2 separate regions of the Homo sapiens genome follow, and region 2 is linked to region 1. The links come from fine-mapping of genetic effects on gene expression. A gene starts in region 1. The other region holds a variant in brackets. All regions are shown on one strand. Distances are from middle to middle.

Region 1 (5,375 bases):
AATTAATTAAAACCAAGGTTTTAATCTAAAGAGCCAGGACTTGCCAACTCCCATGACCATCTCTGGTTCTTTCACCTTTTTTTCTGCCTGCACAGCTGCCATCTGTCCCGGCAGGCCTGGGTTTAGCTGCTGCCTCCTCAAATTCCCCAGGCAAGGCCTCTGCAGGCAAACCAGGTTTCACTCTCCTGCTATGTCCCCTCTCCACCCGGCTCAGCACACCGTACCACAATCACATCGGCAAACTCTTGCTCCAAGAGTCTTTTCAGCTCCCCTCGGGTGAGCGCTGTGCAGTTGCCCTCCGTCCTTGCATAGCGCCTGAAGGCCTCGATGATCCCATTAATGTTTTGCAGTAACTGAGGCATCTTTGAAGTCAACCTGGAAAAGATGAAAAGTTCCCTTGGAGGCTCCATAATCAACCTCAGCTATTTCCTTTATAGCACGTCTGCTGCTAGGTCTTTCCTTGCACGTTCAGCTCTGTTTTTAGTTTTCCTTTGTCCTTTCCTACATAATGCATCTTATGTATGGGAAGGAGGAGCACACAGGATGGAGGCAGGTTCCTGAGTCAGGATTAAATGCTGGCCCCACCACTTAAGTATGGTGTGAGCTGGGACAAGTTGCTTTGCCTCTCCATGCCTCAGTTTACTACTCATTGTAATTGAAGGTGATATTAGTACTCTGTGGGATTATTGTGAAGATTTAAAGACATAATTCATAAAAAGCACTTGGCAGATGCCTGGCTTATATTAAGTGCTCCTTATTAAATATAATTATTATGCTATTATATACATATACACACATATAATTTTTGTACACCTATATAATCACTTTCCTGTACATCATCTCTTCTAATCCTTATTATTTCCACTTTTTTTTATAGGTGAGGAAACAGGCTCAGAGAAGTTAGGCCACACAATTTTTAAGGAGCCAAGAAATCCTAGGATCCATTTTTCCTTAACCCAAATGCAATGGGCTTTCTAGAATGTACCCTGTGGACAGGATTTATTTATTTATCACAAGGGTGTTAGGGTCCCATCGGGAACACCAAAAGGAAGTAAATACATCTGTGAGTCAACCCCTGTCTTGGATGGGAGCCAAGCAGAAATTCCAGGGACACAGCCCTCCCTTCTTGTTTTTTTTGGGAAAGTGGGAAGAAACTGGGCTACCACCTGCTGGGAATGCTCAGGAGGGGGGAACCTTCTTTGGGTGGGAGGCCTTCCAGTTCTGAGGGTCCAAGTTTCTCTGCATGTCGCCTCTGTCCACAGCCCTGAGACTTATCAGAGAAGTCAGCTTGCCCAACAGGCACGTGGCTCCATCAGGCCCAGATTTCTGGTGACCTATGAGTTGGTTCCTAATCAAAGGGAAAGCTTTTCTTTTTCATTAGCCAGAAATCTAGAGGTAGGTTGAGGTGAGGCCTGGGTTTGGTTGCATGAGCAAAAGGAAAAGAGACTTGAAGATTCATTAAGCAGAAGCCTTGGAGAGACCCAAAGGAGGAGATGGTATCAAAGATGACAAGTCTCAAATGCAAGGGGAGATGGAGCCTGTAGCAGCTGGAAAGCCAGAGAGAGGATGGGACGAGGCAGATATAGGTAGGAGAAGAAAGAGAAAAAAGGAAGGAAGGAGACTTGAGTTCTAGAAAAAGCAGATTAGTGTGGCCATGAGGACTCAGTAAGTCATAGCAAAAGGTGGGCTGTTCAGGAGAAACCCTTTCTAGGACCTGGTAACCAACAATTTCAGGCAAACTTTTCATCAAGGTAAAAAACTGGGGATGTTTTCCTCAACATAGATGAAAAATATCTTTCTTTTTTTTTAAAACCATGTAGCAGACTTTAACCACTGACCTTTAGATAATAAAATAATAAGATGACCTTTTAGTTACATTTTAGATTCCTTAGAAAAATCTACACATATTTTGCCTAAATATCACCCTGGTGTAGGAGAGGGGAATCATGTAAACCCCTTCATCCATGACACAGTTTGATCTTATTGTCTAGGTTGGCATAAGTAAACTGATTCTGATCCCATAGACTCTCAGCACTGCAAAGAAGCTTCCAGAGCCTTAGAAAAAAGAAACCTTTGCTGATCCAGGAAGGCACATGGGTGGCCCCATAGCCGCTGCCCACACAGTTTCCCAGTGAGAGGAGCTGCTCCCAGGCCAGCCTCAGGGAGGAGGAGAAAGCCTGATTGCTTCAGGAGAGCATGTTTCCCAACGGTAGCGTTGGTTTGCCCAGTGCTCACAGCTAGCTCTGAAGGATGCATAGTCCATACCTGACTGCCCCAGTTTTATGAGCTCAGATCACCAAGACACTGAGAATGAGAAAGAGGTTTCTTATGAGGGGACTTACCTAATGCCCAGGTGGGATGAAACAAGTGGCTGTTAAGTGGTGTGAGGAGTACCAGGTCAGTGTGATGAGAACCTTTTATAGGGGTTTTAACCAAGGCTCTTGTTTTAGACAGGATATCCTGCCCTATGGGAAGGCTTGATTCATCCAAGATCCAGCCCAGCCCAGCCACACCTCCTCTTGTCTCTGTTTTACCTGCTGATGTGTGACTGCCTTGGTCTAATTAACAGGCCCCTCCTACCACATTTGGTACCTTCTGTAGCTGAGTCCTCTTGACAGGGAAGCTTCTTTCCATTGTGATGGGCTCAGCAGTGCTTGGTACAGGCTGGGGTCCTGGTGAACATTCTTTGTCTCTATGAGCCTACAAAGTTATGGGACTCTTTCCTTTTTTTTTTTTTTTTTTTTTTGAGATGGAGTCCTGCTCTGTCGCCCAGGCTGGAGTGCAGTGGTGCGATCTTGGCTCACTGCAACCTCCGCCTCCTGGGTTCAAGCAATTCCCTGCCTCAGACTCCTGAGTAGCTGGGATTACAGGTGCCTGCCACCATGCCCAGTTAATTTTTGTATTTTTAGTAGAGACAGGGTTTCACCATGTTGAACAGGCTGATCTTGAACTCCTGACCTCATGATTCACCTGCCTCTGCCTCCCAAAGTGCTGGGATTATAGGTGTGAGCCACCGTGCCTGGCCACTGTTTCCTTTTTTAATATAAATGTTCAAGAATATATCTATTGAGGTTAACTTTTACAAAGTAGCCACTCTGAGAGGGCACACATGTTTTTGTGGTGATGTTACTTAGAACTGTTATTACTTAGAACATTTTTTGAATTCTTGTTTTGTAAGTGCCTTTCACACCTAGTGTATGAGACACAAGAAAGCCAGTTTCATCTCTTTAAAGTTGGTCTCATTTTTAATTAAAACAAAAAAAGTTAATACCTTCCCCACCCCATGCTATGGGTAGGTAGCATTTTGTAGCTGATGAGAAAAAAGGCTTACCATGATCATGTGGTAACTCCTCATTGCAAGGACAGGAAACTCAACTGGTGGCTAATCAGCAAATATTTATGGAAAGCTTGCTCCATTTCAGGCAGAGGGCTAAGGCCCTAGGAATACAGTGTTGAATACGATGGCAGCAGTTTCAACTCTCATGAAGTCTATAGCCTGGCCATCCCAGGGGTAAGTCCCCAAGAGGTTAATGATAATGGTATTGCCATTTCATTTCATTTGATTTTATTCCATTTTCATTACCATCTCATCTTATTTGATCTCCCTAGCAATCCTCTGAGGTGGTATGGCTAAGCCCAATTCATAAATGAGAACACTGAGAAATCCTCAGAGAAGTAGCCACTCTGTGAAGCGGAGACGGTGCTGGACTAGAGCCCCTCAGACTCCAGGCCTGTGTTCTCTCTGTTGCACCATGCTGCCATTTATTCTTCTCTCATTGAGTTTTGGCACCTTATGAACATCACACTTATCCTCAATGCATGAAGAACCATTCCTGAGGAGGAAGTTTTCTGAGCTCAGAAGCCAAGTCCCAAAGAGTGCTCTTGAGTGGCACTTTGCAGATAATATATACTGTGTAGCTTCCTGAGTGACTCTGGAAGGGAAAGCCATCTTTACCATCCTCACTTATAGATCAGCATGCAACAGACAGGAAAGGGAACAACAGGATAGGAAGGCATGGTAAGGGCCTTGGTTGAAGAGACTGGTGTATTGAGGGCAGCCCTGTAGCAACAGCACAGCCTCCAGCACTTCCCCTCAGGGCACAGAGCACTGGGGAGTTCCAGACTGCAGGAGGGCAGGATGCAGGCTTTGTGTTTGGAGAGATCTGTCTACATGGGGACAGGTTGGCTCCAGTCCTGGGGTGAAGGTGGGGTAGGCATACCAGCCAGGGAAAAGCAGAGTAGGGGCTTCAACCTTTGGGAGCAAGAGGGGGCTGAGGTTGCTTCTGCCTGATCAGAGTTAGAAGAAGGCCAGTATGAGAGGGTGAAGTTGGAGAACAAGAGGGAGAGCCGATTAGACCTTCTTCTGTGGTGGTGTTTGAAGCTTTTTCTGATGGGGCTTAGAACTTCCAGAAAGGTTTGGGAACTGAGGGTAAGTTAGGGAAGTAACAAGCCAGAGGCTGTATCTAGAAGATGAATATTTGGTAGGTATTATTAACCCAATTTATAGATGAAGAAACCAAGGCACAGAGAGTAAGTAAGTAAACTTAAGTAAACTACCTAAGGTCACATAGCTAGGAAGTTAGACCTGAATTTGAACTTAGGTCTGCCTGCCTCCAAAGCCTAATAGGTCTTTATGTGTGCCTGGGGCAGGACTGAGCTGTGAGGAGCTGGGGCACCATAGAAGTAGAGGTTAAAGAACTGTATGTGTGTGCTGGGCCAGTGGAGGTGGGTTGAAGTGTGCAGGTGGGGCTGGGGGAGATGAGTTGGCAGAGATTGGGACTGAGCCTGTAATTGACTGTGTAAGTTTGTTAGTTTATAAAGTTGGTGAGGAGATGTTATAAGTTAGTGTGCAAGTTGTCAGAATCAAAATGGAGTCACTTGTCTTCAAAAAAATCCTTGACAAATATAGAGCTAAGGAAGGCTGCGAAGAGAGAGTTCTCATGCTTGTACACCTGATAACACAACTATCACAAAAGACTGCAAAAACCACAACCTTACACAAAGGCCATAATAGCCTTACACAACAAACACTTCTGTGAGGACATCAGTCCAGCAGCTGCCTGTCCAACTTCATATTAGCATCACCATTGTTATTGATCTTTGTAGCCAAGAATACACATTTCAATAAAATTATGTAATTTTCATTGTTTTTCCTGTAAGAACTTTTGTTTTCCTTTACCTCCTGAATATGCACGTAGTTTACTATGGCACATGTATTCCCATTGCAATGCCCTATTCTCAAATAGGTAACTTTTTTTTTAAGAGAGATTCACTGTGGTTATTATTTAAGTTGACATTAGTGAGTCTACTTAGCAGTTACATTTTACGGGTATGCTGGAGGGCAGTGAGACCAGGTGCTGGATCAGCAACTCAGC
Region 2 (5,375 bases), 28 kb after region 1:
CCTTGCTTGGCACCCTGCAATAAATGCCTCACTTTCCCCCTCTCTGCAATCTTGATGTCAGTGTTTGGCTTTGCTGTGTTGGGCGGGTGGACCCCAAATTTGTTTCAGTAACAGACCTGGAAGTGCAGGAGAAAGAGAGTCAGAATGCCGTAGGCTAACAAGTGAGTGGGAGGTGATGAAGAAAGAGAGAGCAAAGATAACTTTTCAATAAATTTCGCTAAGATGGTAAGGCCAAAGAGAGAGGATGATGAAAGGAGAGGTAAGTTGGAAGATTACTTTAAAATGGGAAAGGCTTGATCATGCTTGCATGTTGAGGGAAAGGAGTCAGTAGAGAAAGGTAAACATCAGCCTGTATCCTCCAATGCAATGGGATCCCAGCAGGTCCTCTGGGCCACAGGGTCCACAGGAAACTCCAGGCCCAGTCGGCAAAGCAGCCTTCTGGGCTAAAAGGTCACCACCATGCTAAGTCCTCCGCCACCGCCCAGGCCTCAGCTTCTTTCACCCTCCACCAAAGGCTGTCTCAAGTCTTTGTTCTACAAAGGAAGCCCCAGCTGGTAGAAGAGCTGACTTCAGATCAGCTCAAATCTCCCTTCATCTCCAAGGCTTCGGCCTGTGTTTAGCAACGGGGAGCCTTTCTTGGCTCTCTGCTGCCAACAGCCATGAAAGAAAAGGCAGTGTGGCAGCTGTAAGGGTAGCTGGGGTGGAAGCCTCGAGTCTCGGTTCCCATCCCGGCAGAGGGCCGAGTTACCCCAGCAAGATATGGGTCAGGCTGCCACCTAGTGTTCAAGTCAACGTGTAGCAGGAAGGCCTAGCATGCCACTAACTGAGCAGCAAATAGGTGACAGAGGGATAACCGAAAGCCTGCAAAGAAGCCAGAATTCAGAGAGGAGCGCACCGTCCTGAACCAGAGAGAGAATGTGTTTCAGGTGGTGAAGACAGACAGCGAAGCTACTGATCAGCCGGTGGCAGAGGCCAACAAAACAACCTGCACACAGGGCTACAGTTACAAGGCATTTTTACCTGTATTTTCTCTCATGCCATCCTTTGGGTTAATTATTATGGTTTTCCCGATTTTACAGACGTGTCTTCTCCCTGGAAAGTTCAAAAGACTTGTTCAAGTCAGTAGCCTGTTAGATGGCAGAGCTGGGATTTGAAAAGGGATCTTCATACTTTGGGAGGTGGGGGTGGGGTGGGAGCACTGAGTTTCACATCAGGAGGAAGGGGAACAGCTGAAGGCAGAGTAGCCATGACGAGTGGGGCTCTGGGCAGAGCTAAACGATAGGGACCTGTGCCCAGCGGACCTTAAGTTACAGGGTTAGGCTGGGAGCTGAGAAACAACCACCACTGCCCAGATGTGTGCAGTGCCTGCTGGGCCTTGAGCAGAGTTTGCCAGTGAGACAAGCTCTAGAAAGTCCTGCACAAGAGCCAGGACAGGCACTGGCACCAGATCTTAGGGGGTCTGGGGAGGAAAGTCCACAAGGATGACTGCCAAGATGGCCAGTGACAGGCCCAGTGGCCTGCTGACCAGAGGCTAAAACGGGGAACGGAAACCAGAGAAATGCACCAGTGAGGGCTCCTGAGAGCAGGTTAAGACCAGGGGAATCCAGCCCTGGCACCTCCTGGTAGGAGTACAGGGAGGCAGGAGGAGAGAAAAATCCAGTCAGCTCTCCTGCTGGCAGACACTGGCTTGGAAGGGAGACCAAGGACTGACTGGGGATGCTGCCAGTGGGGAATGGGTAGGTAGAACTGACTTCTGTTCAGAGCCCCCAGGTGAGAAACAGCAAATGTGTTTTCTTTTCACCTCCCCAGACTGTGCCAGTAAATGTGTGGGGGCAGCACCTGGGGGCCAGGCAAAGGATCTCTGCAGAGATGGGTGCTGGGTCCTGGGTCCACATGTCAGCCAAGACAGTTGGTCTTCAGATGGTTTAGGATAAGGACTCTGTGCTTGGTACAGTTTTCTACCTCAGCCCCTTCCTGGTGGCTCTCTTTTGTTTTGCTTTTCTTTTGGTTTTCCAAATAAAGTTTCCTTTGAAAAAAATCACCCCCACTCCTGTTTTTTTTTCTGAACACAAAGGCAG[A/T]ATCATTTGTTCCCACGCAGTGCAAGATAACGAACCATACAGAAAATCCCGAAGGGCCCAGGCTTAGAGTTTGAGTTGGATGAGAGGTGAGCTGGGGCAGGGAGAGAAAGCAACTAAAGAAGGCTGGCCACGTGCGGCCTGGGCTGCTGGCAACGTCACTCCCTTGGCCCTCAGAGACCTCTGCAGTCCCACACCCTCTTCCCGCTCAGTGCACTGGCGACCCCTTTCTTTTCCCTGCATACTCAGGATCTCCTTGCTTTTCCACTCAGACTACCTTAAAATTTTTCTTAAAAAAAAAATCTTGCTATACTAGTAAGAGAGGCCCAGCATGGGAAAGTCAGGAAAGAATATAATGAAGATAACATCAATCACATTACTTTTGAATTAATTAAAAATAAACAACCTAATCTCATCTTTGATGACTAGTAGGTTCCTCCCACTTCCTTTCCCAGCCACTAAAGGGTCACTGGTGCTAGGGTGCCTCCCATACAGTGGGGGCTCAGCCCATGCTCGCTGGGTGGCCGATTGTTGACTGGTGCTCTGTGAGCTCCAAGTTTCCTGTAAACATTAGAAAATACAGCATGGGTTTTGGGTGGCAGCTACTCTGGGGCATACTGGCTGGGGAACTGGCAGAATTCCACAGGCTGGTTTTTCTCAAGTTAACTGGTGGCTTCCTGCCATGACAACAAGCTCAGCCCTGTGGGAAGTGGGTTTGGATGGTGCTTCTGGATCACCTCAGCGTGAGTCAATCCTGGGAGGGGTTGGTCTGTCAGCAGTCAGATGTTGGGTACCTACTGTGTACCAGGCACTGGGGATGCAAAGATGGAGGTCCCTGGAGACAGGCTCCACAAACTAACTGGAATTTAATCTGGACTTAGATACAAAACACTGGGAGGGCAAAAAGGGAGGCGTCTGTGAGTGGATCAGTCTCCAGGAAGGCTTCATAGAAGAGGTGACCTGAGAGGTGGGCCTTGAAAAGTGAGTAGGGTATAGTAGTAGGTTGTGGGGCCTCAGGGGTAGGTGAGGTGAGAAGAATCTATTCTAGGAAAAATGAATAAAAACAGCGATCTGGAGTTATGATGGTTTAAAGTGTATCCTGGAAACAATCAGCAGGACCTTCTGTGGCTCACATTTTCAAATCTGTGCCACACTGTGCAAGAGAGTGGCTGCTGTCCCAGAGACCCCATGTAAGCTGCCAGCTGCCCCTGAGCTGCGGTGGGCCCTCTCCTTGCTCCTCCATGTGTCTCTTGAGTTTATCTAGCAGGGAACAGGCATGTCTGTGTGTGCTGTCCAGGCCCAGTTCCAATGCCCCTTCCTTGAAGCCTTTGGGATTCTCTCTAGACACATGTGGGTGCTTTCATCACACCCTGTCCTTGTTGCTGTTATGGCCCTGTCCACACTGATGGTAACTGTTTTCTTCACTAGGTCTGCGTGTTCCTCACAGGCAGGAAATGTGCTTGGTCTGTCCCAGCATCTAGATTCTCAGCATCTGGTACTGGATCTCACGTAGAGCATACAATTAAGTGTTTGTTAATTCTTAAATTTGCTCTAGGGACACATCCCCATCTCTCTGCAGATGCAGGCTCAGTTTTCCCATCTACACCCATTTTAGGGATGAAAGGAGGACTCTAAACAGTGATGGTCTGATGGAAGATAAGAACATCCAGGGTAGATTGTCCTCATCAACCCCAATTAGAACTTGATTGAGAAGGTCACAATCCAGTCTTCTGTAATGACAGCCCATTATTTAATTGACTGAAGCAGGTTTTGTCTGGCAGCTTGACAAGTCATACTGCACGGCCTCTCCCACTCCACCTACAGGGCTAATATGTGACAGATTTAGGTGGTAAATGCTTGAAATGCCTTGAAGATTCTGCTCCAGCCAGCAACCTTGCTGTGACAAGGGCGGGCCCTGATGACAAATAGTGGCCTGATTACTGGACTCATTGTTCCCAAAATGGGCCTTGGGAGGCTGCCCAGTGGCTGAAACAGCTGCTGAACTGCCCACCATGGACTGGGAGAAGATGAGAAGCACGTCTCCTGGGTTCACGTCCTGTTGCTTCACTGACCCCATTTAGTAACCTTGACCTTGGCTTTTCAGATGAGTAGCCAAATGAAGATGAGAAACATTTTAAAAAATCTCTAATTCTTATAAGGGAGTTTTGTGGTGATGACCTTTCAAGGAAGGATGGCTGAATGAATGGATAAACAGAGGGATGGATTTGGTGGATGGACAGGCAGTGAAGCATCAAATGATGGACATATGGATGGTAGAATAAATGGATGAATGGATAGAAAGCCAACCTGTGCTGGCTTGTGTCCTAGAGACATAAAGTGTGCCCTCCGAGGACAGTGCGGGTGGGTGCTGCTGGGGGATTCTACTGCAGTAGTGCGTTTGTTTTTAATTTCTGAGAGCAATTTTTGAAGGGTTGCTATGTGTAGTTGAAAAGCTATGTGCAAAGCATAACTCTTCCATATATTTTTCAGAAAACAGCAATGAAGTGAATGCAACTGATGCCTCCTCAAAAGTTTGCTACCTGCCAAGACTTTCAAGCATGAAAATATCTTTATTTTTCCCTTTTAAAATTGATGGGTAGGCCATATGGGAGAGAGGGAAATACTGACAAAGAGGGCACCTCAAGAAAAGCATGCCTATAAAAATAATGTGACAAACAATGAAACAACACACAAACAGTTTGACAGATAAGAGAGCAAAGGATCACCACACGCCCGTGATTCTAGAGCAAGTGGTGACTTTAGTGTGTGGCTGTGCTCATGCATATGGACCTTACACAACTGCAATCAGCATCTGCATACCTACACCCAGTAACCTGCTTTCTCTACCTAATATGATATAATGAGCATTTTTCTATATTGCTACATAGTCTTTATAATTACTTTAAATGACTGTATAATATTCCATTCATTATATCACTGCTGAATATTTAGGTTGCTTGTAGTTTTTCCTTTGCTCATTTTTATGAATTAACAAATGTAAAGTATTTCACCCACTACCTTCAAATTATATATACTTGGTCGGCACTTTATTTCCTTCCCGTTCTGCCCCTTTATATAAATAAAGAAAAGTATGAAAGATTCATATATGAGCTTTTCTTTAGGGTAAATGTATTAAGATAAATATTGAGTTCAAGATTTAAATAATTGTATGGCTTTTCACACATACTGATGTCATGTTACTTCTATTAATAACAATGATAATAAGTAGCCTACAGTTACACATATTATCTCATAAAATTCTTTCAGCATCTCTAAGAAGTAGCTAGTACCTTATTTTAG

Alleles and levels. Positions count from the first base shown, and alleles are read on the strand shown. Sizes are in standard deviations (SD) of each study's normalised expression.
For the expression in unexposed skin of the gene that starts at base 2,392 in region 1, A is the high allele of the variant in region 2 and T is the other (moderate effect, 0.41 SD a copy in GTEx).

The links. PIP is the estimated chance that this variant, and not a neighbour inherited with it, causes the effect. A credible set is the group of variants that fine-mapping cannot tell apart.
Region 2: its variant is the best candidate, but not a certain one, in a credible set for the expression of CRNN in unexposed skin (GTEx, PIP 0.90).

Annotation. Positions count from the first base shown.
Region 1 is chr1:152,411,872-152,417,246 of GRCh38, forward strand. CRNN (cornulin) reads right to left here and starts at 2,392. Exons shown (of 3, transcript NM_016190.3): 1 at 2,343-2,392; 2 at 225-375. The coding sequence starts at 362.
Region 2 is chr1:152,440,279-152,445,653 of GRCh38, forward strand. No RefSeq gene overlaps it. Among named protein-coding and RNA genes, the nearest start is that of CRNN, 29 kb to the left of the region's middle. The variant A/T (reference allele first, on the strand shown) is at 2,079.